Linked DNA regions of Homo sapiens. The protein of the gene in region 2 purifies or fractionates together with the protein of the main gene of each other region. This does not show direct contact. Each region holds a gene or a part of one and is shown on either strand. Other genes may lie near its edges. The genes, in order: ASXL1, KMT2C, ASXL2, BOD1L1 and KANSL3.

Evidence for each region.
Region 1: the proteins of KMT2C (region 2) and ASXL1 purify together in Homo sapiens (affinity purification with mass spectrometry, with the first as the bait; one large-scale study listed by BioGRID). This does not show direct contact.
Region 3: the proteins of KMT2C (region 2) and ASXL2 purify together in Homo sapiens (affinity purification with western blotting; one study listed by BioGRID). This does not show direct contact.
Region 4: the proteins of KMT2C (region 2) and BOD1L1 purify together in Homo sapiens (affinity purification with mass spectrometry, with the first as the bait; one large-scale study listed by BioGRID). This does not show direct contact.
Region 5: the proteins of KMT2C (region 2) and KANSL3 purify together in Homo sapiens (affinity purification with mass spectrometry, with the first as the bait; one large-scale study listed by BioGRID). This does not show direct contact.

What each region holds. Positions count from the first base shown.
Region 1 is NC_000020.11:32,422,874-32,428,928, reverse strand, and holds part of ASXL1 (polycomb group protein ASXL1), read right to left. Parts: intron 802-6,055; coding exon 681-801; intron 605-680; coding exon 507-604; intron 1-506.
Region 2 is NC_000007.14:152,179,739-152,185,793, forward strand, and holds part of KMT2C (histone-lysine N-methyltransferase 2C), read right to left. Parts: intron 5,894-6,055; coding exon 5,820-5,893; intron 3,419-5,819; coding exon 3,236-3,418; intron 2,857-3,235; coding exon 973-2,856; intron 389-972; coding exon 96-388; intron 1-95. UniProt on the Homo sapiens protein: Histone methyltransferase that catalyzes methyl group transfer from S-adenosyl-L-methionine to the epsilon-amino group of 'Lys-4' of histone H3 (H3K4).
Region 3 is NC_000002.12:25,870,654-25,876,708, forward strand, and holds part of ASXL2 (putative Polycomb group protein ASXL2), read right to left. Parts: intron 1-6,055.
Region 4 is NC_000004.12:13,595,179-13,601,233, forward strand, and holds part of BOD1L1 (biorientation of chromosomes in cell division protein 1-like 1), read right to left. Parts: coding exon 3,768-6,055; intron 1,991-3,767; coding exon 1,926-1,990; intron 767-1,925; coding exon 682-766; intron 1-681. UniProt on the Homo sapiens protein: Component of the fork protection machinery required to protect stalled/damaged replication forks from uncontrolled DNA2-dependent resection.
Region 5 is NC_000002.12:96,595,167-96,601,221, reverse strand, and holds part of KANSL3 (KAT8 regulatory NSL complex subunit 3), read left to right. Parts: intron 1-718; coding exon of another isoform or gene 719-748; exon of another isoform or gene 749-1,096; coding exon of another isoform or gene 1,097-1,156; exon of another isoform or gene 1,157-1,569; intron 1,570-3,061; exon of another isoform or gene 3,062-3,141; intron 3,142-5,590; coding exon 5,591-5,611; 3' UTR 5,612-6,055. UniProt on the Homo sapiens protein: Non-catalytic component of the NSL histone acetyltransferase complex, a multiprotein complex that mediates histone H4 acetylation at 'Lys-5'- and 'Lys-8' (H4K5ac and H4K8ac) at transcription start sites and promotes transcription initiation.

The DNA.
Region 1 (6,055 bases), on a different chromosome or scaffold from region 2:
AGCACTTTGGGAGGCTGAGGTGGACAGACCACTTGAGGTCAGGAATTCGAGACTAGCCTGGCCAACATGGCAAAACCCTATCTCTACTAAAAATACAAATATTAGCCAGGCACGGTGGTACGTGCCTGTAATCCCAGCTACTCGGGAGGCTGAGGCAGGAGAATTGCTTGAACCCCAGAGGCAGAGGTTGCAGTAAGCGGAGATCATGCCACTGCACTCCAGCCTGAGCGACAGGCGCGACTCCATCTCAAAAAAAAAAAAAAAAAAAAAAAAAAAGAATGAACAAAATCACTCAGCCAAGGTAAAGAAAGAGAAAAAACTTACTCTGCTCAAACCTACTGTTCACTTTTCCTGCGGCCCCCTGTTAAATGCTACTAACAGCTGGAGACCAGACTTCTATTCTTCACTCTCTGAACATGTTCACAGCTCACTACAGGAGAAGGAGGGATCTTGCCTTATACCTGTCATCATTCATCCTCCCAGGCTAGGCTCTACCTCTTCCTTACCTGTGAGGAAGCTCTGTAGCTGTCCCTGGGATTGGAAAGAGGTCGACTCTGAGATTCTGTAGAACAGGATGCGTTCGAAGATGTTTCATCAAGAGATACTGGAAGAGAGGAAAATAAAGGTTAGTCCCTAGTGCCTGCTGTGGCTCCCTCACCCATCCATTAAAGGGTCCTTACCATCGTTTTCACCACTCACAGTGCTGGCTTCATTAGACCCACAGCTCTCCACATCAGCCGTGTCCTCTGGCTCCTCTCCCTCCACTGTAGCTGGATGGCGAGACCACTGCAGGGCATCCTTCTGTGACAGCAAGGTACAACTCAGGTGAACAAAACCCTACAAATTCTTAAAGCAAGGCAGTCATTCCTAAATGTGTATGCTTTTGAAAAAGAGGGATTTAGAATACTGACAAGTTCCTAACCCTTTCTAACTGACCTTTTTCTCAGCAAGTTCTTTTCATAAATATATCATTAAGAAAGTTAGATACACTTTTGCATTCAAACATTCATTAAACATTTATAGGGTGCCTCCTATAAGCTATACCATGTTAGTTCTGGGGAGGGTGGAGTGCTAAGGAGCAGGAATCAAGGCCCTGCTCTCAAGGAGCTCAAATAAGTAGGGGGGTCAATTAAACTGATTACAATACAAAGTACAGTACATAGGTGAACATGGAGAGCCGTGGCAGCCCAGAAGAGGGGCACCTAACTTCAATGAGTTGAGCGAAAGACGGCATGGAGGTGAATAACGATCAGGGAAGTAACACATCCAAAAGGATGTGTTGCTTAAGCTGGGTTTTAAAATAAATTAGCAACTAGACAGACAGGTTGGCAGTAGAGAGATTGTAGGAAGTTTCTAGATAGTGGGATGAGCAAATGTGAAAGAATATTCCAAACTCAGGGAAACTAGGGCTGTGGGGAACTCAATATGCAGGAAGCTAGAGAGGGCACGAGGGCAGATGGTAAGACCCATGTGGAGGGATCAAGAATTTGATTGTTCCGGAGTCACTGAAGAATATTAACTACAGGAATGATTTGAGTTTTCGGAATTTCATCTGGCAACCGCGGGAAGCCTAGAGGCAGGAAGAAGAGGTAGACACTATGAAAGATGTCCAACAAAAAATGCCAAAGATCTAAACCAAAGATTGTGGCTACAGGGCTAGAGTGTAGAGGAGAACTCCATCCCAAATTTCACCTCCTAAGAAAAGCTTCTTCCAATAGACTCACGACATGTAGACTCAGAATTAAACTCTACCCATTCCCAAGAAGAACTTGGGAGTTATCTCACACCTCAAAACTACAAAGAGTGTGGATGAGAATACTGGCAGTTGGAGACAAGAAGAAGATAAGTTGGGGCAGAGGAGGAGAATGTCTTCTTTGAATAAAAGTATGTGAAAAAGAGTTGATAAAGTCATGATTCTGCTAAAAAGGCACCATAAATTTAAAACAGGTGCCCACAACAATCTAACTCATCAATTTCATGAGTCTCTTGATCCACTACATTGAAGTTTCATCAATTTATTTTCATTAGTTTTAGCCAAAATCATGTATCTTAAATTAATAAAAAAGAGGCCAGGTGCAGTGGCTCACTCACACCTGTAATCCCAGCACTTTGGGAGGCTGAGGCAGGTGGATCACGAGGTCAGGAGATTGAGACCATCCTGGCCAACACGGTGAAACCCTGTTTCTACTAAAATACAAAAAATTAGCCAGGTGTGGTGGCACGCGCCTGTAGTACCAGCTACTCGGGAGGCTAAGGCAGGGGAATCACTTGAACCCAGGAGGTGGAGGATGCAGTGAGCTGAGATTACGCCACTGCACTCCAGCCTGGCGACAGAGCAAGACTCCATCTCAAAAAAAAAAAAAAAAAAAAAAAAGAAAGAAAAAAAAGAAAACAGTTTTCTACATCTTTACCTCTTTTCCTTACTGGCCATACATGGTCTTCAGAATCAAAAGCTAAATAATATTTTTAGTTATGCTTATTGACTGCCATGTTCTTGGTATAATAAAACAAATTTAATCTCTCTTCTCTCATGGGCAAACTAAGATAAAATACTCCTTAATGAATTAAGAAAGTCTATTACACTGGCAAAGTTACCCCAAATCTCCAGTTCTGACAAGAGTATGAGAAAATCATACATACACCCTTGATGAAAGTAAAAATGGCATAAAAAGGTTCACATGCTGCCAACGGAAAACTATTAGCCAAAACCTAAAAAATATATATGTATCTTTTATCCCAATACGAGATTTACACAGGACATGAAAAATATTGATTCTTACAAAGGAGAAAACAAATCAATTAAACTACATTAAAATTAAGACCTCCTATTCATCAAAAAACATTATTACCTACAGAGCTGAAAAAGATATCTGCAACTTACATAACCAATAAAGAACTTGTATTTAGACTACATTTATAAATCAGGCCGGGCATGGTGGCTTGCACCTGTAATCCCAGTACTTTGGGAGGCCAAGGCGGATGGATCACTTGAGGTCAGGGGTTCAAGACAAGCCTGGTCAACATGGTGAAACCCTGTCTCTACTAAAAATACAAAAATTAGCTGGGCGTGGTGGCGCACACCTGCAGTCCCAGCTACTTGGGAGGCTGAGGCAGGAGAATCACTTGAACGAAGGAGGCAGAGGTTAGTGAGCCAAGATTGTGCCACTGTACTCCAGCCTGGGTGACAGAGCCAGACTCCTTCTTGGGGGCGGGGAGAGAGGGGGAACAAATATAAATCAATGGGCAAAAGGCAACTCAGAAGAAAAATAAAAGATGTGAATTAGGCACTGCACAAGAGGATACTGAAGTAGCCAAAACATATAAAAGGGTATTTAATCTCACTAACAATAAGGAAAATGCAAAATAATGCAAATTAAAACCGCAATGAGATACTACCACATCCATCAGAATGGCTACAATTAAAGTTTGACAATATCAAGTAGTGTTAATTAGGAGTAGAACAAGTACACTGAAAACAGATCCAAGCATTTGAGAATACAATTTGGCCTTATCTGGTACAGTTGAAGATACAAACATCCTCTGACCCAGCAACGTCCCTCCTAGGCTTGGATTCCTTAGAGAAGTACATGCACATCTACACAAATCACAACCCACATGTTCATGATGCAGCATTTGAAATCTGGATTATAAACAATCAAAGTGGCTGCCAAAGGCAGAATCAAATTGTAGTACATTCAATAAATGGATGATTATACAGCAACAAAAAATGAATGAACTATAGCTACTAACGACATAGATGAATATTAAAAACAAAATAGTGAATGAAAGCCAGATACAAAATAATGCATAGTTGATGATTCCGTTTGTGAAAAGTTCAAAATAAGCTCAACTAAACTACAGCATTAGGAATGCAAAGACGGGTAGGTAATCTAAAGGAAAGCAAGAAAATAACTTTCATAAAGTCAAGACAGAAGTTACCTTCAGCTGGAAGAATGGGGCTGTGACTGGGAAGGGGCAGTGGGGGGTAGGGGAGGTGCGCCTGGCTGCTGGCCATATTTGATGTCGTGATCTAAGTGGCAGTTACAGGGTGTTCACTTTATAATAATTCCTTAAGCTGAACATTTGTGTCCTATGCATTCACTGTATTACATTCCCACAATTATAAAAGTTTAAAAACAAAAAATTTTAAGGTATTTCCTTCAAGGAACACTACCACAGATAGCCATTTAAAAGAAAGCTGTACAGCATTTAATGACAAGAGAAACGATGATACACAAGCTTAATTAGGCAATTAAATTCATACAGTATGATTCTATCATCTTTTTTAAAAAATGAAAATTTGAATGTGTTTGCATAGAAAAATGCAAGAGAAATTCTTACTAAGCTGTTGGCCACCACCATCTCTAGGTGGCAGTTTTTTTGTTTGTTTTTTGAGACAAGAGTCTCGCTCTGTCACCCAGGATGGAGTGCAGCGGCATGATCTCGGCTCACTGCAACCTCCTCCTCCTGGGTTCAAGCGATTTTCCTGCCTCAGCCTCCCGAGCAGCTGGGATTACAGGTGGCTGCCACCACGCCCAGCTAATTTTTGTAGTTTTAGTAGATATGGGGTTTCACCATGTTGGCCAGGATGGTCTTGAAATCCTGACCTCAGGTGATCCACCCACCTCAGCCTCCCAAAGTACTGGGATTACAGGTGTGAGCCACCGTACCTAGCCTAGGTGGTAGAGTTTTAGTAAGTGCTTTATATTCTTTTCAATTGTGGGTATTTTCTACTATTAACATGTATTGTTTTCTGTGATCAAGAAAATAACAATGAAAAAGAAAAATTAGGTGTTAAATGCTTTACCAAGAGCTAAATCAAAATTTCCTTCCTCTAGGTCCTAGAGTCTGGGGAAACCAAGTACTGTTTACAAATCTCATTAGTTAAACAAACAGGAATAGGGCCTGGTTGTCTGCAATTCAAACTACCCAGAAGTTTCTAAAGCCATGCATTTTCAGTAAAAAGACAAGGAAAACAAAACTTTTAAGAGTAAGATTTGCTATTCTAATACTGCATAATTTTTATTGTACAGACAGGGTCTTGGTCTGTTGCCCAGGCTGGTCTCAAAGTCCTGGGCTTGGCCAGGTGCAGTGGCTCAAGCCTGTAATTCCAGCATTTTGGGAGGCCAAGCCAGGCAGATCACTTGAGGTCCAGAGTTCGAGACCAGCCTGACCAACATAATGAAACCCTGACTCTACTTAAATACAAAAATTAGTTGGGTGTGGTGTACATGCCTGTATTCCCAGCTACTCGGGAGGTTGTGGCAGGAGGATCGCTTGAACCCGGGACATGCAGGCTGCAGTGAGCCAAGATCATGCCATTGCACTCCAGCCTGGGCAACAGGGTGAAACTCCATCTCAAATACATAAATAAATAAATAAATAAAAAATGCTGGGTATTGTGGCCCACACCTGTAATCCAGCACTTTGGGAGGCCGAGATGGGGGGACCACCTGAAGCTGGGAGTTCGAGACCAGCCTGGGCCAACATGATGAAACCCCCCCTACTAAATATACACACACACACAAAAAATTAGCTAGGCATGGTGGCACACACCTGTAATCCCAGCTACTTGGGAAGCTGAGGCACAAGAATCGCTTGAACCTGGGAGGTGGAGGTTGCAGTGAGCTGAGATCATGCCATTGCACTTCAGCCAGGGCGACAGAGTGAGACTGTCTCAAAAAATAAAAAATTAAAAAAAAAAATCAAACTCCTGGACTCAAGCGATCCTCCCACCTCAGCCTCCCTAAGTGCTAGGTTACAGGCCAATTCTACAATTAGCCACATCCAGCCAATTCTGCATTTGTAAAAGATCATTAATCTTTCCATATAAACTCTATAAGTTTGACATAATTGACTTTTCATACATTAACCCTATATGTCTGACAAAAACGAAATGGGTTACTGAAAATAACAGGTGCCAGAAAACATGCCCTAGGATTCAAGATTTTAACATTTTACAAGAATAATTTTCATCATGAAGCTTTTAAAAAAATTAATAATGGGTGATCTTTCACTAAATCCTACATATAAAAAATTCTATAGGCCGGGCACG
Region 2 (6,055 bases):
CTAGTAGCTAGGATTACAGGCACAAGCCACCACACCCAGCTCTGTTTCCCTCTTCTAATAGCAATTTAAATTCGGCAGGAAATTAAAAGCATTACCTAAATCCATGAGGTCTCATCCCCATACTAGCAACATCAGGAGGATAGGGTCCACGCTGATCTTTTGGGAAAACAGCATATCTAGGTCCTAAAGGAGGGGCAACAGGAGACCTAATGTTCCCAGGATAGGGAGGTGGGGGTCTGGTGAAAGCCTGGTTAACATTCTCTGGTTGCCAGTGTTGAAGAGGCCCTGGATGAGGCACTGCGGGTGAGTCCTGTGACCCCTTCTCCTGTCGACCTGCAATCTTCTTCTGCTGTTGCTGCTGGAGAATGATTTCACGTAACTTCTGCCGCTAAATGGGAAGAAACAAAAATCACTGGGATTTGTGGTAATTAATGGCTTTTTAAAGGTTACTGGCTTTTTATTTTTAGATATGGGATCTTGCTATGTTGCCCAGGCTGGCCTCAAATTCCTGGACTCAAGTGATCCTCCTGTCTCAGCCTCTCAAGTAGCTGGGATTACAAGCATGCGCCACCGTGCCTGACAGGTTAGTGGCTTTTTAAATCCTGATACTTTCATTATGTGGCTATGGTAATGTTTCAAAGTTTGATGAAATACCAGTTACATTTAACTATTCAATATATTAGGAAAAATAATTTGATGATTTGGGTCCTTTTCCTTGCCAGACAACTATCACAAAACAAAGCTTTAATATTTAAGGATTCCCCTGCGAATTCGTGAAAACTGAAATCAGATACAGAATAAATTAAACTGGTGTTAATTTCATCAATTTCATTTTTCTTTTTTGCAGTATGACAAACTCTACAGAATAAAAAAAATAAAACATTAACTCCTGTGTAGAAATTACTCAGTTTGATGAAATGAACAGCTTCCTCAAATAATACATTTAAAACTGAGAACATACAATGTGTTTACCTGTCTCAATTTCTCTGTATCTGCTTGGGCCATATTTACAGTATTCTGTGTATCAGTTACTCCTGAAGTTGGCACAGGTCCAGGAAGTTGGGAGACACCAGAGAACTGCTGGCCTTGGGAGTGCATTGGAGAGTTTGAAGATGCACAGAAGCTCCCCTCTGATCCAGGCCTTGGCTGATCAGCAACATCATGGGCAGTTTGACTTGTTCCAAAAGAGTCAGACTGAGATCTTGGAGTCATTGGAGACTGATCATAGGGATCACGGGCAGCAGATGGGGAAACACGGCTAAATGTGTCTGAAAGACCAGGTCCAGGGGGCCTAGGTGTCTGGGAACATGTATCAGGTGGCCTTACCAACGGGCCAGGTAAAGCTGGTCCTCGGTTTTGTGCTGCTTGCAGGAAAGGATCCTGATTTGGCATGAGGACTGGTCTTGTCATTGAGGACCTAGTAAAACCCTCTGAAATCCTTGGCCTTGGTGTTGCTGGTGGCTGAGAGTAAGGGACAGAAATTCCAGGTCTTGGTGTTCCAGGAGGATGAGCATATGGATCAGAATGCCTCTGATTTGTTACAGGTGTAACAAACAAGTCAGTTTGTGTAGATGGTCTTGGGGTTTGGGGCTGCTGACTATATGGGTCAACAGTAGTAGGCCGGGGAGTTCCAGGAGGTTGAGAGTAAGGGTCTGTATTGGACCTAGCTGTTCCTGAAGATTGGGAATAAGAATCTACAACAGGTCGTGGAGTTCCTGGGGGTTGGGAGTATGGGTCCTGAGATGTTGGCCTTGATATGGTTCCAGGCTGGGAAAAAGCCCTTGAAGGATGGGCAAAAGATTCATTCACTGCTGGATGTGGGGTAAGGGGAGGCTGACTATATGGATCATTTGACTGATTATGAGAAAAATTATCTATAGGTCTTGGTGTCAAAGCAGGCCTTTCATAAGGGTCAACAGACAATCGCCTTGATGCCTGTGACACTGATCCATAAGGATCCTGAGAGGATGGAGGAGGTTGCATTGGAGTCTTAAAAGGTCCAGGACCACTATCAAGAGGTGCAGGTGTCAACAAGGGTCGTGCATATGAGTCAGGTATCCTTTGTCTTTGAAACACATCTGCCCTAGGAGATGGTTTAGTAAAGTGATCACTGGTTCCAGCTGCTATAGGGCCTTTTGCAGTTTGTTCTGAAACTACAGGAGACCGGGATAGGCCCAAGGATTTGGGAAATTGATCTGTCATCACAGGCCTAGGTGTGTCTGGAGGTTTTGCATAGGGGTCATTATTTGTCGTGGAAGAAGAACATAAATCTCTGACAGGGGATGGCCTATTTGCTGTTGTCTCATTCATTTGAAGGGGCCTAGATACCGATGATAAAGGTGTACAGTTTTCCACTGGTGCAGCAGAATTTCTTCTGGAAAAACTATGGCCCACAGGAGGTGGTCGAGGGGTACCAACCATTTTTGCATATGGATCCATTGGAGATGGTGGTCGTGAGTTAGAGGACCCAGGTGAAAACACTTGCGGTGAGGGTGGCTGAGAAGTCTGAGCCTGAGAAAGACTATCCTGGATGGGAATCCGGGATGGGGCTGGAGGAGGAGGTGGAGCTTGTGGCTTTACAAACACATCATCTGAAGATGTAGACGTAGGGGTACTGGGTGGCTGTTTTGTAAACAGTTCTTTATGGAATGACTGTGCAGGAGACATATTTCCATTGCCAGGCTGAGGTGTCAAGGGACTCTGTATCCCACTACTTGGTGTATCTGAACCAGACTGCACCAGAAGATGCTGAGAACCAAATTGCTGTTGTTGCTGCTGCTGCTGCTCATTTTTCACCTGTTCAAGTTTCTGTGTGGCTTCAATTTTAGCTTGCTGCTTACTTTTCTGACGCATTTGCTATTAAAATAGAAAAGAAAAAGCAATCATATTTAGGTTAAGGAAGAAAACTACCATCATGGGGGGAAAAAGCAACAGAAAGTTAATTTGTTTGATGTCAGCGCTACCAGATTGCTCCCATATTAGATTATGAATTCCTGAAGAAGAGAAATTACTCATCATGGTATGTTCCATTTGTGCCTAGGGCAGTATATTGTTTATAATATTTCAATAAATTTCTCAAATCAATTTAAATATATTTTACTGAAAAGAGAAACAAGTCTATCCTAAATCAAATTTTCATGGTCTAAGAACTATATTCTAAAATAATAATGCAAAGACCTCCCTTCTCAAAACAAAAATGCAACTTCAAAAAGTAGATTATCCAAAAATTCCATACCTGTCTAAATTTCCATTCCTGTTCATGTTCTGATTCTCTTTGCTTTAAAGGATCTTTAAAAAGCTCCGAATCAATACGAGAGCTGGGATCAATGCTATCTTGCTGTTGCTGCCTTTTCATGGAATCATTTGACATCTGTACTTTATTAATGCGTAAAGCAGCTCTGTTATCTCTGGCTTTTTGCTTTGACAAAAGAAGAGAAAAAAATTTCCCAGATTATGTTAAATGTTTTAAGGAATAAAATAAAACTATCATGAACTTTCTCAAATAAAAGAAAAAAAAGTCAGGTAAAATAGCTGAAATACTTACGGCACCTCCCAAAAAAGGATCTGGACACTAACTCATCTTCTCTCTTTACAGTGCATAGTACCTATCAGTTGAGGATATATTTCTATGTATTTGAATTAAGCTTAAAGATCCTAGGTGTGATTTAATATTTTAGCTCCTAGTTTTCTTAACATATCCTTAGAAATTATGTCTCCTTCAATTTAGAAAGAAGGGGCTGGGGCCAGGCATGGTGGCTCATGCTCGTAATCCCAGCACTTCGGGAGGCCAAGGCGGGTGGATCACCTGACGTCAGGTGTTTGAGATCAGCCTGACCAACATGGTGAAACCCCACCTCTACTAAAAATACAAAATTAGGCCAGGCGCAGTGGCTCACACCTGTAATCCCAGTACTTTGGGAGGCTGAGGCGGGTGGATCACCTGAGGTCGGGAGTTCGACACCAGCCTGACCAACATGGAGACACCCCATCTCTACTAAAAATACAAAATTAGCCAGATGTGGTGGCACATGCCTGTAATCCCAGCTACTCGGGAGGCTGAGGCAGGAGAATCACTTGAACTCAGGAGGCGGAGGTTGTGGTGAGCCAAGATTGCGCCATTGCACTCCAGCCTGGGCAACAAGAGCAAAACTCTGTCTCAAAAAAAAGAAAAAGAAAAAGAAAAATCAGCCAGGCATGGTGGCACATGCCTGTAATCCCAGCTACTTGGGAGGCTGGGGCAGGAGAATCGCTTGAATCTGGAAGGCAGAGGTTGCAGTGAGCCGAGATCGCACCATTGCACTCCAGCCTGGGCAACAACTGTGAAGCTCCATCTCAAAAAAAAAAAAAAAAAAATTTAGAAAAAAGGAAAAATATCCAATCAGTCTTAAAAAAAAAAAAATCTGGATATTTGAAACGTATCATTAAAGAAATCACTTAAAAATTTAAAAATTCTGTCATTACCTAATTCAAGTCAAAATAAAACACAGCATATTAACACATCTATATATATATATGTGATAGAGCATATACACACATATATGCTCTATCCAAAATAATCACTGTAACTGAAAATATGTGCACTGGGGAACAAGCTGGAAAATAACTATATATATTTTCCAACAATAATACAGATTTAATATGCTTTAAAACGAAAGCAAGGATTTGGTTCCAGCTGACAATCTTAATTTGGCTCTTTGGGAGAAAATAATTTACCATATGAACTGCGAATCTTATAAAATTACCTAATAGTTCATGGCAAAGATCATGTGTCAAAAACTCTTTAAACATGTCTAAATATTTCTCTTTCAAGATGCACAAAGATTCTCTATGAAACCTAACAAGAAAAGAGGTGACTGTGGAAGACACTGAGGCATGCCAATCCAGTCTCCAAATTTAGTACAGTTGTCCCTCTGTATCCATGGGGTATTGGTTCCAGGATTCCCTGCAGATACCAAAATCCACAGATGCTCAAGTCCCTTATAGAAAATGTCACAGTATTTGCATATAACCTACACATATCCTCCTGTATACTTTCTCCCTTTTTATTTTTTGACCTAGCAGGGTGGTCTTGCTCTGTCACCTAGGCTGGAATGCAGTCGTACAATTCTGGCTCACTGAAGCCTCAACCTCTCAAGTCTCTCAAGTAGCTGAGACTACAGGCATGCGCCATCATACCCAGCTAATTTTTTCATTTTTTATAGAGATGAGGTTTTGGCTATGTTGCCCAGGCTGGTCTTGAACTCCTGGGCTCAAAGCCATCTGCCCACCTTGGCCTCTCAAACTGCTGGGATTACAGGTGTGGGTCACTGTGCCTGGCCCCTCCTGTATACTTTAAGTCATCTTTAGATTACTTGTAATACTTAACACAATATAAATGCTATGTAAATCGTTGTTACATTGTTTTAAAAACAATGACAAGGGAAAGAGTCTGTACAAGTTCAGTATAGATGTTTTTCCAAAATATTTTTGATCCATGGTTGGTTGAATCCACAGATATAGAACTCATGGATACAGACGGCCAACTGTACCTCTGCTGAAGAGATAAAACAATTTTAAAGTGAAATGAATTACTCCTTCCCCCCTAAAACAGCTGATTTTCAATCTTCAACGTTTTGGTTCTATTAACTTGCTTATAAAAATGTCACACTCTCTATTAAGACATAAGGAGTTAGAAAATCACTTTAAAAATAAAGTTGCTTGTTGTACAGGTACTAACAAGCATTTTCTGAAATGGAAATTTGTTTTTTATTAACCTAATACAAATAAGGTTCAAGCACTGTATTTAAATATTTAAAAGATAGAGGAGTTTCTTAAAATACCACATATGGTGCTCTTTCTTGTGAGCTTGCTTTTCTCCACAATTTGGCAATTTGCTTCACTCTAGTAGTCCAATCTGCAACAAAAGAACAGAGTATAACACTTTCTCAGAGCCATGCTAATGATGTGTTGTAATAAAGAATGTTGATGAACTGCTGACAGTTAATCTTATTCAGGCCGTATTCTCATGAGGTCATAGACCTATATTAAGTTTTTTACAAAGAACAAAGATCGTGGC
Region 3 (6,055 bases), on a different chromosome or scaffold from region 2:
ACAGAGCAAGACCCCACCTCAAAAAAGAAAAAGAAGAAAAGAATAAGGCAGATATTAAATACACAAGTAATGACACGACAAGCTATCCATGATATTCATAAAATAAAGTTATAGAATTTCATGTAAAATAAAGGTATACCTGTTTGTATATACGAGGTAAAAAAAAATCCAGAAAGCCATATTTAACTATCAACCAGAGTTAATTTCGGTATGGTAAGTAAATATTTTCAATATTTCAGTATGCAGACTTTCACTTAATTCCTGTTTTCAGTATACTGACTCATCTAGGATTAACTCTTTACATACTTCTACTTGTTTCTTGTTTTTTTAAAACATAATGAGCCTATATAACTTGAATAGGAAATAAATTTAAAGCAAGTAACAGTTTTTAAATCATATTTAGAGTTCTAAAATTTAGCTCATTCAATAACCTTTTAACAATAGTAAAAACATAACAAATCACACTGTACTAAAAATACTAAATTTAAAAATATCAACTATGAGGATGGCCTCTATGAGATGTAAAAAGAAAGAATACAGAAATAGAGGGGTATTCAGAGTTCTTTTGTAAACAGGACAAAGATAGCAAGTTTAGTTATATCTTCCACACTGGCCTCCTTCCAGACAGCTTTCGTAGAGGGGGGGAAAAATGTCCCACAGCAAAATTGTCCAGCCTCTCAAGAGTAGATAGAATCTGTGGATGGGGAAGCAGAAAGGACTTTTGCAAACCTGAGGTTATTTTCTCAACGCCTTTCAGAATTCTACAAGAGATGCAGGAGTAGCAGCAGCAGCAGCACCTTTCATAGAAATTTTTAATTTAAGTGTTCAAAAAAAAATCTGCTTTTTTCCCCTCCTTCAACAAACTAGGAGGCTTGTGGGCTTTCAGGATAGAGGAATAAAAACAGGTCAGAAAAAATTATGAAATTAACACAAAATTTTATTTATTTTGGTTTTTGAGACAGAGTTTCACTCTTGTTGCCCAGGCTGGAGTGCAATGGCACGATCTCGGCTCACCGCAACCTCCGCCTCCCGGGTTCAAGTGATTCTCCTGCCTCAGCCTCCTGAGTAGCTGAGATTACAGGCATGCGCCACCCACACCTGGCTAATTTGAAATTAACACAAAATTTATGCAGGAGAACTTTAAATAATATGGCAAGAAGGAAAGATCAGTCAAGCAAAAAGTGTTACATCAAGTCACCTTGTACTAACAGACTTGCAGAAAGTAATTTGACGAATGTAAATACACAGTTGTTTTGAAAATTATGCATCAGAGCAGTTCCTCAATTTTTTTAAAAATTAAAGAACTTTTTATTAAACTCTTGGGTGAAAAGGAGAAATAAATTATAGAATTTCAGAAAAACAATGAGTGAAAATTTTGCATAACAGATCTATGGGATAAATGTAAAGCAGAGATCAGAGGAAAATTCACAAGCCCAAAGAGCTACATAAATTAAAAATTAGCAGGGCACAGTGGCTCACGCCTGTAATCCCAACACTTTGGGTCCATTGCGAGAGCCCAAGAATTTGAGACCAGGCTGGGCAGCATGGCAAAACCCCATCTCTACAAAAAATACAAAAATTAGCCAGGCGTGGTAGTGCGTGCTTGTGGTCCCAGCTACTTGGGAGGCTGAGGCAAGAGGATCCCTTGAGCCTGGGAGGCAGAAGCTGCAGTGAGCTAAGATCGCACCACCGCACTCCAGTCTGGGCAACACAGCAAGACCCTGTCTCAAGGAGAAAAAAAAAATTAAAACTTAAATAAATTCCCAACTCAAATAGCTAGAAAGATAACAAAAGAAACCAAAACAAAGTCTAAGAGTAAAATTGTAAAGGTATAAGTGAAAACTAATAAGGTCAGAGAACAGAAAAACAATTCATAAACAAAATCTGTTTACTTAGGGGAAAACAAAAGCACCCAACAAAACAGATAAATCACTAGCAAAATTAATAAAGAAGATAGTAATACAAATATACAAAGTAAGCATTGATAAGGGAGAAATAACTATAGAGAGGAAAAATTTTAAATTCTATGAGATTATTTTCCATAGCTTTAGGCAAATAAATTTGAGAATCTCTATTATATGGATAACTGTTAATGAAAACAGTTTACTAAAATTGACCCTAGTAGAGAGAGGACGCTTAAGCAAACTAAGTTCCACAGAATAAATAGACAAAACTATCAAGGAATTAGCTCACCAAAAAGCACTTAGCCCAGACGGTTTCTCAGGAGAATTTTTTTTTTCCCAGAAGTCTCTATTTATTGGCTCTTGGGAGGTTGTAAGTTCTTTTTTTGTTTTTTTCCCCAATAGTTTTTGGGGAAAAGGTGGTGTTTGGTTACATGGATAAGTTCTTTAGTGGTGATTTCTGAGATTTTGGTGCACCCATCACCCGAGCGGTGTACACTGTACCCAATGTGTAGTCTTTTATCTCTCATCACCCTCCCACCCTTTCCCCACCCAGAGTCCCCAAAGTCCATTCCATTGTTCTTATTCCTTTGCATCCTCATAGCTTAGCTGTCAGTGTTTCTCAAGTTTTAGCCCATGCCAATGCTTTCTCACTAATTTTTATGTAATCCATGAGCCAAAAATCTACCGTTTTACTTTCTATAATTTGTATTATAAAAATTGGCCAGGTGCAGTAATCTCAACTACTATGAAGGCTGAGGCGGAAGAATCACTTGAACCCAGGAGGCAGAGGTTGCAGTGAGCCGAGATTGCACCACTGCTCTCCAGACTGACGACAGAGTGAGACTCTGTCTCAAAAAATAATAATATTTCCATTTTCTACACTTCCTATATCAAAGTAATTAGCCTATCTTTAATAGAAATTTTCTATCTTCCACCTTATTTTCTAAAGTTAAATAAAGATGATTAATATGTGATGACATCCTGAGGATTTTAGCAGTGACAAAAGTGACAAAAGTTTTAAGTGACAAAAACTAAAATCTTGTGTACATTCAAAATAATTAACCAATGAATAAAGTCTATATATTAAAAAAAAAAACAAAAAAACTACTTCTTCAGTCTACAAATTATATTCCAAAGATCTACACTACAGGTTATGTTCCTCATCTCTAACACCCACACCTTGTTTCTCATATTTTTTTTTTTACCATTTTCCTCCCAAAAAAACACCCAATGTCCCTTAAGTGTATAATCTCTAAAGTCTGCCTCTCTATCCCTTCCACCTACAATCACACACACTTGTCCTTTTGGGACTCTTTCACCTTTTAATGCTTTTCTAGCCATGGGTAAGGAAAGAAAAGTCAAAAGGCAAACAAGATCAATAAGACTGCTATTTTCAAAGTTCTGCTTTGCAAAAACTGCTAAAATCCTCAGGATGTCATCAAATATTTAGATGATTCATCTTTTTAATGAGCCTAATTTTGAACATAGTTCTAAAGTCAATGCAGGCAGGGTGCAGTGGCCCACATCCGTAATCCTAACACTTTGAGAGGCTGAGGCAGGCAGATCACTTGAGTCCAGGAGTTCAAGACCAGCCTGGGAAACTTGGCGAGACCCCGTCTCTATAAAAAAAAGTTTAAAGATTAGCTGTGGGCCCCGCACAGTGGCTCATGCCTGTAATCCCATCACACTGGGAGGCAGAGGTGGGCAGATCGCTTGAGTCCAGGTGTTTCAGACCAGCCTGGGCAACATGGCGAAACCCCATCTCTACAAAAAATTAAAAAATCAGCCAGGTATGGCAGCGCATGCCTGTAGTCCCAGCTACTTGGGAAGCTGAGCTGGGAGGATTGCTTGAGCCTGGCAGGCAGAAGTTGCAGTGAGCCAAGATCACGCCACTGCATTCCAGCCTGGGCAACCAAGTGAGACCCCGTCTCACACACAAAAAAATTAGCTGGGCATGGTGGCACATGTGTGTGGTACTAGCTACTCCACAGGCTAAGGAGGGAGGAGCCCTTGAGCCCAGGAGATGGAAGTTGCAGTGAGCCACGATCACAAGACTGCACTTTAGCCTTGGTGACAAAGTGAGACCCTGGTTCAAAAAATAAAGTCAATGTAATGGCTCTCAATATCCCCGGTTAGCTACAAGTTTTCAAATTTAAATTGTACTAAACACTACACTATTTGTCTCTCGCTCAAATCATTCATTACCACCATCACTACTGCCCTTAAAATTTAAAACATGCAGCTGAGTATAGTGGACCACGCCTATAATATCAGCACTTTGGCAGGCTGAGGCAGGAGGATCACTTGAGCCCAGGAGTTTGAGACCAGCCTGAGCAACATAGGGAGACCCTCTCTCTACAAAAAAAAATTTTTTAATTAGCTGGGAATGGTGGCGCACACCTGCACTCCCAGCTACTCAGGAGGCTGAGGCAGGAGGATCACTTGAGGGGTTGGCTGAGTTGCCATGAGCCGCCATCGTGGCAGTGCACTCCAGCTTGGGCGACAGAGCAAGATCCTGTCTCAAAAAAAGAAAAAGTAAAACATGTGAAACTGTTAACTAAATACTAGAATGCTTTTTATAACTAGCATATTTAAATAAGATCAACAGGGAGGCAGTCCAGTGTAGTGAATGCACATTCAAGATCAGGTGAATCGCAGCTCCATCACCTTTCTCTGGTGTCCTTAGTTACTGGAGCCAGTGTATATATTTAAGTTCATTTTATCAGCCTTTTGGCATAATCTACTATTATATAATAATTATGAAGCCAAGCACAGTGGCACATGCCTATAGTCCCAGCTACTTGGGAAGCTAGGACAGGATGATCACTTGAGACCAGAAGTTCAAGGCTTTAGTGCACCACGATCATACCTGTGAAGCCACTGCACTCCAGCCTGGAGAGCATAGCAAAACGATTCTAAATAAATAAATACAATTATAATAATAATGATAATAATTATGAATCTTATTATTTTGCTTATAATAACCTTACATCAAACCATGTAGCTCTCCCACATAAACACACACACCCCGTATCATCCCAGTATCACATATCTACATTTAATGTGTTGAATATATCTATTGGTATATTATTGGTCAGGAAAACAACCTTATTTTAATAGTACTCTCTAAAACATGATAGCTCTACAATGGAGGTATCAAAAACACATGAAATAAGAAACAGACACCTGCTTCCTTGATGAAACTGTTCCTCGAACACTTGACATCCTAATGCCTAAGAAATAAGTTTAAGCCTTAAAACTTCTTTTCCTATTCCTCTGGATCTAAATACTAACATTCTTATTTAGGTCAAAGTTACTTTCATTTGTCAACTCACTAATTTTCTGATTTCATTATTCTACAGTCTGAAATATTACAAATGTACCTTTGCCCGGTCCTTCTTTTATTTTCATCTATTTATCCCAAAAACAGAAATATTTTGAACACCGAGATTTAGTTTAATCCCCTCACTTATAGGTAATAAAATAACCCCCCAAAATTAAGAGTGTTTTCTAGATTTTGGCTACTAGAAAAACTTTAGTGTCATCATTCTCTTTCTAAAACACATTTTCACTGAGACTGGGGCTTCATGTATTTGCCAGAATCAAAGAAAAATACCAAGCTACTAATATACTGGTACCCTCAGGAACTCTACTGATCAAAGTAGTCTTTCCATCTTTTAAATACTATTTTTCACATAGCTAGCTAGGGCATGAAATGAGCAAATATACTAACATAGGAAAAGCTAAGTAGATGCAGACTAATTTTTCCTATTTGTCGCAATCTCCCAATGACTATTTTATCAAAGGGATCATAATTCAAAAAACACTCCTAAGATTCTAGAAACTTGTGTAATATTAGTGCTTTGAGAGGCCAACGGCAGGAGGACTGCTTCAGCCCAGGAGTTCAAGACTAGCCTAGCCTGGGCAACATAGAAAGACCCTGTCTCTACAAAATATTTTTAATTAAAAAAACAATTTTAAAGACCCTAGGAACTTAAAATTAATTAGCATAAATTAGGGTCCAGGTCTGCTTACCTATAATTAAAATTTATCATGCTTCTTTTATTAACAGAAAGAGGTCTTGAGGTATACTGAGAGTAAAACAGCCCTCTGTGGGGATGCAACCTCTACACCTTCAAAAAAAAGTATAG
Region 4 (6,055 bases), on a different chromosome or scaffold from region 2:
TAATAGTGACTTAATATTTACTTTTCTCAATTTTAATTTCTTATTTGGCAAATGTCAACAGGTATAAGCCATATAACAAAATCTCTTTGGGGTCTTCGGTAATTTTTCAGTAATTTTTGGTCCTTGAGACCAAAACGTTTAAGAGCTCCTGCCTTTATCCTTTCTGATATTGAGGATCTCCCTTAAAATCTGTAGTCCACAGTGAAGAATGTTGCACAGAGAGACTGAGATGAGGTTATACAAGCTGAGAGCAGTATCTGTGCAGCCACTGGGGAAAAGCCTGAGCAAGAGACAAGAGCAAATGGTGTAAAGTGGGCCCTTATCCTCAGACTAGCCTTTTGGAAGTAAGCTGCAATAGCATCTGGGGACAGGCAGGGGTATGGAGAAACATTTCTGGGATAGAGCAAGAGTTTGCTCCAAAACAACTTTCGTTTTGCATTATTATTTGGGGGTAATCAGATTTAAACAATTACCCTACATAATGTTGATTGACATTTCATGAGGAAAAGTGTATGTTAAAAATAAAATAGTAAAGAATTCTCCCTAATCTATTTTAAAAAGTGAGAGGCAAGTTAATAGAGCCTGTATGTTACTATGCATCAGCTATTGATTTTTAGAAAGGTAAAACCACATGCAAGGCAAAAACAAAAACAATGTGAACAACCATTCTAAAGAGCTCACCTATTCCACTTGGCTTTCCCCCACACAGACTTTCTGGTGGTGCCAGAATTTCACCATTTTTCTCTTCCTCTGAAGGCACATAAGCCTAAAAAATCCAAAGCACCATAAAAATAAGTTAACCAGGGTTTTTACAAGAAGACTAACCTCAAGTGAATTAAACAAAAAAAAACCCAGCATCCTGAAACAATATAAAAGCCTATTTTCAAGAGTACACAAAACTTAAAAATAAATACATCAACCTTTAAAAACAAAGCCAAGTAAAAAATCAATTTAATCTCGTATTTCATCCATCAATGGGTATTCTATTGCTTTAAAGGTAAAAACCCCAACTCAGCACACCACACAAGACTCTTCCTGATGGGCTCCCACTCCCTTCCAGGCTCAAGTCTCATCACAGCTCACCGTGAACCACTGCAGCGCCTGAGACACACCACGTGCCCTCCTGTCTCTGAGTCTAGAACACAACATTCTCTTTGCTTGGAAGGCTCTTTTCTTTCTTTTCTGGGAAATTTCCACTCTACTTTCAAAATTCTATTCCAGTGTCCTCCTTGCAAGCCCTCCTGTCTACCTGCCTATTGCTACTATTGGGCAAGTTGTGTTTCCTCTGTAGTGTTCATAACCCCCATGTTCACTGCTGTTTTGTCACATATACTTGGATGGTGCCTTCAGATCAGGCTAGAAAGAGGATATGGAGACTAAATTGTGTAAAGCACCAAAGCCATGCTTAAAAAAAAAAAAGCAGATTTTATTCTAAGCATGATGGGAAGCCACCACAAATTTTAAGCAGAGCAATGACAGGGCCTAAGTTATGTTTCTAATGACTACCTGCAGGACTGTGTGAATCACACTGGAGGAGGGCTGGAGTGAACTAAGCCTAATGGAGAGGCTACTGAAGTAGTGGCTTAGCCTAGGGTGATGACTGTAGAAACAGAAATAGATGGACTCATGTTATATTTTGGAAATGGAACCTGTAAGAAATGGCGATAGATTAAATGTGGGATGACGGAGAAACTGAGGGTGACTCTTGTGTTTCTGGCTTGAGTAAATGAACTGATGATAGCACTATTTACTAAGATTACTGAGGTTCTTAGCTTTCCCCCCACAGGATATGGCAATAACAACACTAAATATCATAAGTACAATGAGAACAGGACCTATATACCACATAAGTATATATATGTGTATATGTGATGAAACAGTATTTAATCACTTACAGTTCAGCACAGCTGAATTATAAGCCATACCTCCATTTTCAAGTTGGCTTTCAGTTTCAATCCTCCCAAAACATTCAATGGAGACTCTTCATTGCCTAATAAAATTCAAGCCATTTAGTACAGTTTAAGAATTTGCTTGCAAAATACATCTGGGGTCAAAAAGTAATGGAATGTGGTTATCTGACATGCTGTTGCACCTTCCTTTTCTGGTTTATTTTGCTGTCAGTAGAAAATGATCAAAAGGAATATGTTGTATAAAAGAATCTGGATGAAAGGCAGGGATTATTTGCTCATTTTGGGTGAGTGAAATTCTTATTTGCACAGTAAGATAACTGCCCAGAAAGAATGACAAAAGTATTATCTGTGGAGACATCTTCATTTCCAAGTATTTTTCTGCAGTGATCTCCATCAAGTTTGTCCTTAAAAATATTCTGAGTCACTAAGGTCTATTCTCAGTAAAGGTGATTTATTAACAGATTCACTTTACTTGCTTCACACTGAACACAGAAAAATTGAACACAAAGTTAAACTGTGAGGTAGACAAAAAGAAAAAATTTTCTCAGGTGCAGAGATTCAGTTCTACTCTGGTCTTGCCTCTTATATCCTTCTTTAGATTGTGTAGAAGCTTCTGTGGAAACCCTTCTATTTTCACTTCTTCAGGAAAAAAGGAGGAATGAGTAATTGTAGCAATGATTGAGTCATAAAAACTTCTGGAGCATTCAATTTACTCCAGGCTAAATTCAACAGAAACTTGTAAAGTTACTTGTTTCAACCCTTGGAGCATTTCTTAAAGTCTCCTAAGTCTCTATAATGAACAAGACTAAATCTATTAGCCTCAGCTTCCTGAGACTGGGTTAGATGATGGCTAAGGTCTATTTCAGTTAAAAGTCCAGGATGCTACAATTTATATAGCCAGAGTGGAAAAGAATTCCTCTGTCCCTTCAAGTCCAGCCCATGAGGACCCTTTTGTTCCTACAGCATCCTGTGCTTAATCCCAGTCTATGCAATTGTCATGCTTTAAAGTGTCACTGTCCACTTTTCTCCAATCTGGACTGGTATAAAGTATCTGAAGTTGGACGGTATAAGGCATGACTGAGATAATATCTTTGAAAGTTATTAACTATTTCTAAAAGACCAGCACTGTCCAAAATCTGTCAGCAGGGAAAAATGTTTCTTTTCACTTTCAAATATATTCTAAACTAGAAACTCATTTCACCTGAAAAATAAGCTCAGTTAAAAATAACATGCTCCTTTGATTCAAAGGAACTAACAGACTGAACAAACAAATACTGCAAACCTATGATCAGATGAGGGTTGGAATCGTGTTTGCCTTTGTATTATCATCCCGTCTTATTATCCCCATTTTATACAACAAGAAATGGAGGCTCAGAAACTGATTTTTCCTCTAAAAGTCACCCGAGGACCATGAATGCTATTTAAATTTTCTGACCCTATTTCCTCGTTTGTAAAATGAGGGTGGTAAAAAAAAAATGTATTGCTTTCATTGGGTTGTGGTAGGGTATTCTTCTTTTTGATTGACAAAAAACCTGTAGGTCAAAAAGGTTTAGTAAGTTGCAGCAGTCATGTAAATAACATGTGGACTTCCCATGCCTCAGCCTCCTGCTTTTTCTCTCCCCACACATGAGAAATGGGCCAAAGGCTTTAAACTTTTAAACACAAGTAGCTTTTAGAGAAGTTTGACCTTCAAGTTTGATGAGAGTTATTTTGCAACATTATGATATGAGAAAAAAATTTATAGATATTTTATCTTTCTGGAACCAAAACCATCTTTTGGAAGACTGTCCTAAATGCACTCTGTTGTACAATCATCCTTGTAAATATTAAAATTTGCAATTAGGTACAGATTCTCACCTATGTCACACACATTTTCTTCAGAAGACACAGTAACCATTATGTCTCCTTCCTCAGGGAATGATTTCCTTGTGCTGTTATCATCTCCTGTTTTCTCAGCAGATGCTTGATCAGTCCATTTGCCACTATAATCATTCTTTATAGTCAAGTCCTGCTCACATTTAGGAGCCAACAGAGCTACACTGTAAGTAGCTGGAGGGATCATTGTGTGGGAAGGAGCAATTTTTGATTCTTGGCCAGTAATACATTTGGTGGTACTGGTTTTCAAGTTGTCTTCAGACCCCTGCTGCTCAGCAGGAAGAAAGGAATGCTCAGCCACGGTCCCTTGAACAGGTGGCATGTCATCAGCTTTTATAGCACCGGTGTTTACTGCTGCCAAATAGCGAATGCTGACAGAGGGATCCTTAGCCGTCTGCCCAGACGTCTGTTCTGGTCCTCTCAGGTGGGCAGGTGAGTTAGCATTCCCCTCTAAGCCCCTTCCTGCTGAATAACTTGCTGTGCTACTGCCCCCTGCTGTCCCTGTCTCTGGGCTCTTATCTTCTTTCTGAAGGGAGTTCAACAATACATTCTTCTCTTCTGCATTTATGAGGTGTAAAGTGCTCTCTTTCTGTCCTCTTCCTGCAAATGGTCCTATTTCGGGGCACTCCTTGCCATGCTTCTCTTCTTTTTCCGCACAAACAGCACTTGGATGGCCTTGCCCTGCAGAGGGCTTGTGGACTGATGGCCCGTTGTGCCCCTCCTCGGTGCTCACTGCCAACACGGGACCCGGTTCTTTGCCTCCCCTGACTGGCCCAGGACACCGACAGTTATTCTCAGCAATTAGGCTGGGCATGGGGACCTTGTGCTTGCTCACTTCTGTGGCTGACAGGTCACCGTTCCCTTCTGGGTTGTCTGCAGTCAGCTGATTCTCTTCATGTCTGTCAATGCTGGCGGAAATTGGCATACATTCTGCTGTGCTGGTGGAGATGATGGCAGCATCGCTCAAGTCTTCTACTCTTGTGATGGTGAGCCGATCTTCATCCTGGAGGACAGCACCAATCATGACTGCTTCACACCCTTCAGAGGTGCTTGTGGAAATCATGGCGGTGTCACCCATCTCTTCCGCTGGTGTGACTGAGGGGTCGCCTTCCTCTTGAGGGACAGCACTGGACACTGGGCCCTCACAGTCTTCCACCGAGCTCGTAGAGATGATGCCACTCCCGTCTTTTTCTTCCATGACTGTGCCAGCTCGCTCATTTTCACTTTCAACAACTACACCGGAAACAGAAGCCTCACATTCTTCTGCTATGCTAGTGGAAATGAGAGCACATTCATCCTTCTCCTCCTTGCTGGTTGAGGCAAGAGGACTTTCAGCTTCTGGGGGCGCACTGGGCATAGGCCCCTCAAAGTCGGCGGTGCTTATCAAGACTGGACCTGTAGCCCTTTCTTCCACTGCTGCAGCAACCGGCTGAAGACTTTCAGCACACTTGATGGTTGTTGCACTGGAGATAGGCAATTCGAATTCTTCCCCTATGCTTGTGGAAATCATGGCACACTCATCTTTCTCTTCACTTCTGCTGGCAGTGAGTTGGCTGTCATCTCCTGAGACTGCACTGGGCATGGGGGCCTCAAATTCTTCTGTGGTTACTCTGGTACCTTCCATATTTTCTTCAGTTCTCAGAGCATCTGAGAGACCTCCTTCCACATCTGTAATTGCGCTTACCTGAGGGGTGTAATCATTTGTGGTACTGGTGGAAATAATCAAAACTTTGCCTTGATTTTTACCCCCTGCTAAGCTATTCTGGTTGGTAATATCACCACTGGCTGTAGTTGCCATGAGACCATCACACTCTTCATTTTCTACAGAGGTGATGATGTCCTCATCTTCTTTTTCACTTGGTGATGTGTGAGCAACTTCACATTCTGGGACTTCACCAGATACAAGAACATCGTAACTACCCCCGACCAGGCCAGTGGAAATAGTGGTATCTTCAACTTTTTCGAGCTGACTGTCACTTTGATCAGATGCAGCACTAGTCATAGGACCCTCACAACCTCCTGGAACTGGTGTCACTTCATCCTTTCCTGAGACTGCACTGGTCACACTGCTTTCTACAATCCCTTTTGCACTGGAGCAGATATCTGTGTCTTTACTTCCTTTCTCTGTGCCACTCATGCTGTCAACATTATTTTCATTTGCATTCATGATGGCAGCTCCAGCCTCAGCTTCCACATGCTCTACCACAGTACCAATCTGACTGTCCCCTTCTGCACTTTCACAAATCAAGACCCCTTCACTTTCTTCTCCT
Region 5 (6,055 bases), on a different chromosome or scaffold from region 2:
ATCTCGGCTCCCTGCAACCTCCACCTCCCCGGTTCAAGCAATTCTCCTGCCTCAGCCTCCCAAGTAACTGGGATTACAGGCGCCCGCCACCATGCCCGGCTACAACAGGGTTTCACTGTGTTGACCAGGCTGGCCTCGTACTCCTGACCTCAAGTGATCTACTTGTCTCGGCCTCTGAAAGTGCTGGGATTACAGGTGTGAGCCACCGCTCCTGGCCCTTTCTTTGTTTTTAAGGACATGGAGACAGAGATATCTCACTATGTTGCCCAAGCTGGCCTTGAACTCCAAGGTTTAAGTGGTCCTCCCGCCTCGGCCCCCAAGTATAATACTCTTTCTTTGACATTGGCTTTCTAGCACTGTGCCTTCCCATATCTTAGCATTTATTGCTGTCTTTTTAGGGCACAGCTAGGTTTTTATAGGTCTCACCCAGGAAGTCATGATTAGTTTCTCTTAGCTGATCTAATTTCCCCTGTGACCTTTTCAAGTCAAATATTTCTAATCTTAAAATGGTAATCTGAGGAGCCACTCAAAGATTAGAAGTTAAGCCAAAAAACAGTTTGAGTCTAGTACTGAGTGTGCTTTCCTTCAGTATCCGCTATACAGCCAAGGCCTTCCTGTGTCTCCCTGTCCTTTCCACCATGTCAACCTGCTTGTGAACTGGAGGTGCAGTGATAGTTCCTGAGCCATTCTAAAAGCTCTTCTGTCTCTTCCTCTTTAGGGAAAATACTGCACAGAGGTCAACACCTGACATTCGTTGGGATCATAGCTACCTTTTTTTGCAGAGGGATGGAAATGTTTTAATTTTATCTTATTTCTTATTTTTTCAATTATAAAAATGATTATGCTTATTTTAAATAATTCAAACATTATAGAAATAATTAATTTAGAAAGGGAAAGTTTCCCATGATGCTACTCCTAGAGATGATGTTCACTGTTAATAGCCTGATATGGATCCATTCAAATTTTTTTTTCTACACAAAGTATGTTATTTTATTTATTTTGTACAAATATGGGATTACAGAGTATGGACTGTTTTGTAACTTGCCTTTTTTTATAAATCATGTCGTGACACGTTTCCCTGTCTGTGTCTTTTCAGAGGCTGGCTAGTATTTCACTGAGTAGATGTATGAAGATGTATTTCACCACCTTCTGTTAGGTAGATAGCTGGGTTCTATTTTGGTTTTTGATATTTTAAATAATGCTCTGGTGAACACTTGTTTATTCTTGTGTACCTCTGGGAGCATTTCTCCAGGCCAGAGAATAAGTAGAGGATGTGTACCTCTAATATCTGGGCAGCTGCTCACTAACTGCCCTTCAAAAAGTTTTTGCTACTTTACAATTCTAGCCACGGTGATGAAAATATGTTTCATATTTTGTGGAAATCAAAATTTTAACTTTATTAATCTGGGTGAAAAATGAAATTGTTTTAATGTGCATTTTCCTGATTACTTAAGAAGTTTTATGTCTTTTATGAAATGTTTGTCATACTCTTTGAATTATAGTGGCTTTGTATATTCAGATGTTAAATCTTTATCTGTTACACAAATTACATATATGTTATTCCTGTCAGTGGCTCATATTTTTTTTTCTTTCTATTGAAGCATTCATTGAATGTCAGTCAGTCTTTTAACTTTTATTTCTAGATCATACAGCCATTTAAATGTTTCATATAGTAAAATCTTCAAATATTTTCCTTTATAGCTCCAAAGTTTTATGCCTTAAGAAAGCTAGCCCTATCACAAGAATATAAAAGTAATCCTTTTTGTTTTTAAAATTTGAATTGTGGTAAAACATATATAACATACAATGTACCATTTTAGCCATGTTTCAAGCTTACAGTTCAGTAGCATTGAGCACATTCACATTGTGGTACAGCCATCACCACCATCCATCTCCAGAACTTTTCTGTCATCCCATATTGAAACTCTCTCTTTGTGTTTTCTTATAATGCTTTTGCTTGTTTCCTTTAATTCCTTATAGTTCACTTTTGTATGTTAAGTGAGGTAAGGATGAGTCCATTCATCATTCCTCCACTCATCTAAAATCCACTGCTGTCACATTCTAAAGTACTGAACACATATGGGCCTGTTCTGTAGTTTTGAATTTGTCTATCCTACGCTGGCCTTCTGTTATGGGTTGATAGTATGGATCTTGAAGTTAAGGGAGTGTCAATTCTGTTTCTAGTTTGCTAAGATAATCTTCATTCTTTTCCTTTCTCATGATAGTTTTGAATTTTTTCCATTATTCTTTTAGAATCACATGAAATGAATGAGGATAAACATTTCCTTTTTTTTTTTTTTTTTTTTTTTTTTTGAGACAGTCTCACTCTTGTCACCCAGGCTGGAGTGCAGTGGCACGATCTCAGCTCACTGCAACCTCTGCCTGCCAAGTTCAAGCTATTCTCTTGCCTCAGCCTCCTGAGTAGCTGGGACTATAGGCTCATGCCACCACCCTCAGCTAATTTTTCTATTTTTAGTAGAGACAGGGTTTCACCATGTTGTCCAGGCTTGTCTTGAACTCCTGACCTCAAGTGATCCACCCACCTTGGCCTCCCAAAGTGTTGGGATTACAGGCGTGAGCCATCATGTCCGGCCAACGTTTCCTTCTAATCAGTTAAAATGATGAGTTACTTTAATAGGTTTCCTAATATCAAACTGTGTGAATTCTAGATGCAGTGGCTTTTTCAGTGTGTCCTATTCTTTTTATTATACATACAAAGGCAACAAGACCCTATCAAAAGAACGAAATGAAAAAAGAAAGAAGCTAAGCATTTCAAAAGAAAAGCATGTCTATTCTATTTGCTTTTATTTTACTTAGGATTTTGGCGTCTATATTAATCTCCTCAGGCTTTGGCCCATAGTTTTCTTCCCCTCCACCCCCTACTTCTGTGTGTGTGCTTTCCTTTGTCTAGTTATGTAAAAGGGGTAATTCAATCCTTGTAGAATGAGATGGGAAGTGCTTTTCCCCTCTCATACTCTAAAACAGTTTTATAGTACAGAAATGATAGTTCCTTGATGGGTTGATAGAAGTGACCTACAAAGCCATTTGGGCCTGTTTTTAGGGTGTCTTCGTTTGCTGATGCCATGTTGATGGACAACTAGAACACAGATCCTGCCACGTGATCCCTTCCTCCTGTGTTAGGTAATCCGTCTCAGCTTGCCATGGCCTGGGCCAGCCAGTTACCATTGAGAAGAGAGTAGAGGTCATTGAGAATCCCCCTTTTCTGGAGCTCAGTTGAAGCACAGAATAAAGATCAAGGTCTGGCCTTCTAACTGATGATGTTAACATGAGATTAGTTTTCATCTTAATAGAATGGACGTAGGCTGGGCATGGTGGTTCACGCCTGTAATCCCAGCACTTTGAGAGACCTAGGCGGGTGGATCACGAGGTCAAGAGATCGAAACCATCTTGACCAAAATGGTGAAACCCCATCTCTACTAAAAATACAAAAATTAGCTGGATGTGGTGGCGTGCACCTGTAATCCCAGCTACTTGGGAGGCTGAGGCAGGAGTATTGCTTGAACCTGGGAGGCGGAGGTTGCAGTGAGCTGAGATTGTACCATTGCACTCCAGCCTGGGCAACAGAGCCAGACTCTGTCTCAAAAAAATAAAATAAATAAATAAAATAAAGTGGATATGTAATTGCTAGGAGGAGTCAGGTGGTGATTCTTTTCCAACAAGCAAGGGGATGTTATTAGATTAAGGCTTCTTGCTGATTCAGAAGCTTCTAATAGCTCTGTTCAGATTGCCAGACAGAGCACTGGACTATGGGTCAGGTCATCTGTTTTCAGCCAGCTGTGTGATCCTGGGCAAATCACCTATCCTTCTGGGCTTTGGTTTTCTTACCTGGTTTAGAGAGGAAGTTGACTTAATTCAGTGACTGTTGTGGTGGCAGGATCAGAATCTCCTCAGGCTTTGGAAACCGACGTTTTTTAATGCTTAGAAACAAACTACCCATTTTTTTGACATTTATGAGGCAATTGGAAATTTTAACACTGACTGGATAGTTGTTGATATTACGGAATTGTTAACCTTTTTAATGTGTGATAATGGTATTGTTAGGATTTTAAAACAGTCATTTTTTATTTTGGGGTTCCATACTGCAATATTTTTGGATGGAATGAATTTAAAAAGAAAAGTGAACACCAACTAGACTTCTCTAAGATCTGTATAAGCACTTAATTATCTGTTTTGTTTCTGGCACTGATTGGTGTTTACTATGTGTTTCCTTCATGGGAATGGACTATTGTGTACTCATCACAGCTGAGAAGCTGCAGGGAGGAAGAGGACAGACAGAGACTATGTTGTGCCCTGCATCAGGGTCCAAAAAATGGACTCCCTGCCTGTGGTTATAAGTTCTCTCTCCTCTCTGTCCTGCTGGCCATACCAGGACCTTGTCAGCCTGGCAAGCAGCACCTCTAGCTGGAGGCCTCTGGCAGTGGGCCTCACTGTAGCCTTGTAGCAGGCTGTGGGCAAGCTGGCTCACTCTAAGGTGTATTCATAATCAGAACAGAGTGATCATCTGTGTACAGCCCTGCCTTTGGGCAGGGAAGCCCATGAGGTTTTGTTTTTGTTTTTGATTGAGATGGGGTCTTGCTATATTGCCCAGGTTGGTCTGGAACTCTGGGCTCCAGCAGTCTTCCCACCTCAGCCTCCCAAAGTGCTGGGATTGAAGTCATGAGGTTTGATTGTCAAACTCCTCTTCATTGGTGTGATTATGGCTCACTGCAGCCTCAACCTCTTGGGCTCAAACAATCCTGTGGCCTCGGCCTCCCGAGTAGCTGGGCCTATAAGGCATGCAGCACTATGCTCACCTAATGTTTGAAAAAATTTTGTAGAGATGGGCTAAGTTGCCCAGGCTGGTCTTAAACTTCTGGGCTCAAGCAGTCCTCCTGCCTGGCCTCCCAAAGTGTTGGGATTATAGGCATGAGCCACCTCGCCTGGCCTTCCCTCCTTTACTACATTCTCAGAGACCTCTTAGGAGTTTCCCAAGGGGGAAATTTAGAAAAGTGGGGAAAGCGTTGGTAAAAAAGGCCACCCTCTCTACTTGCTTCCTTATTCTTAAGCTGCAGGGCTCAACATTGATGGCATCCCCCCACACCTACATGTCTAAGGCCTCAAAATCAGAAGTCACGGAAATCTTCCCTTCTGTTCTGTTGCCCTTAAAAACTCACCTATTTCCTTTTTTCTGCATTCCTTTTCTGTCTTCATGTGTAATAATATGAGGTGACCTTTGTTGTTGAGCACAGATTAAACTCAGGAGCTTTATGTGGATTATTTCATTTAATCCTTACGGTGACCCTGGAAAGTAGATGCTGTCATCTACCTCTTACAGGCGAGGAAAAGGAGGCTCAGAGAACATAGGCACTTGCCTTAAAAAGTGGAAAGTTGAGTCTCTCACTCTAGAGTCCATGTTCTGTTAACCACTTGGCAGCTAGAACATGTGTCCTTGTGTATCCAACTTCTTTCCTATTGAGAATTAATTCTTTAAAATAAATTCTCAGGAGTTGGGATAATTGGGATAGAGGGTCTGAATATGATGATAACCTGTCAAAGCTTTGACCCTTCTTCACTACCTCTCCTGCCACAGCGCCTGCCTCCAGCACCCTGAAGATGCTGTGTGATATGTCCTCCTTACCAAGTTGGTGATGGCTGCCTCATGGTGGGCCCTGGACAGGTGTGTGGTCCTGCTGAGCTGTCCACGTGTCGGAAGACCTGTTTAAGACAGTCATTTTTGCCTCTCCGCCAACTGTCTTCAGAGAAACCATTAGGTTAGGTGATACGGTGCCAGCAAGGGAAGCACCATCGTCCAGGATCTGCAAATCTGGTTCCTGGGAACCCCAGACTCCTCAGCAGATCTGGCTGTACATGGATCAGAACCACTTCTTCCCCCGCTTAAGCTGTGGTTTGACCCAAGGGTCAGCATATAGGACTGCCTGCTGCATTTAATGAAGGTGTTTCCTTTTGGAAGTCTGTGCTACCCTCTGCGCCTAGTTGGGAGGAGACATCCATCTGGTCTGGGATTTCGGGAGTTAGAATGGAAAGCTCTTTGCTA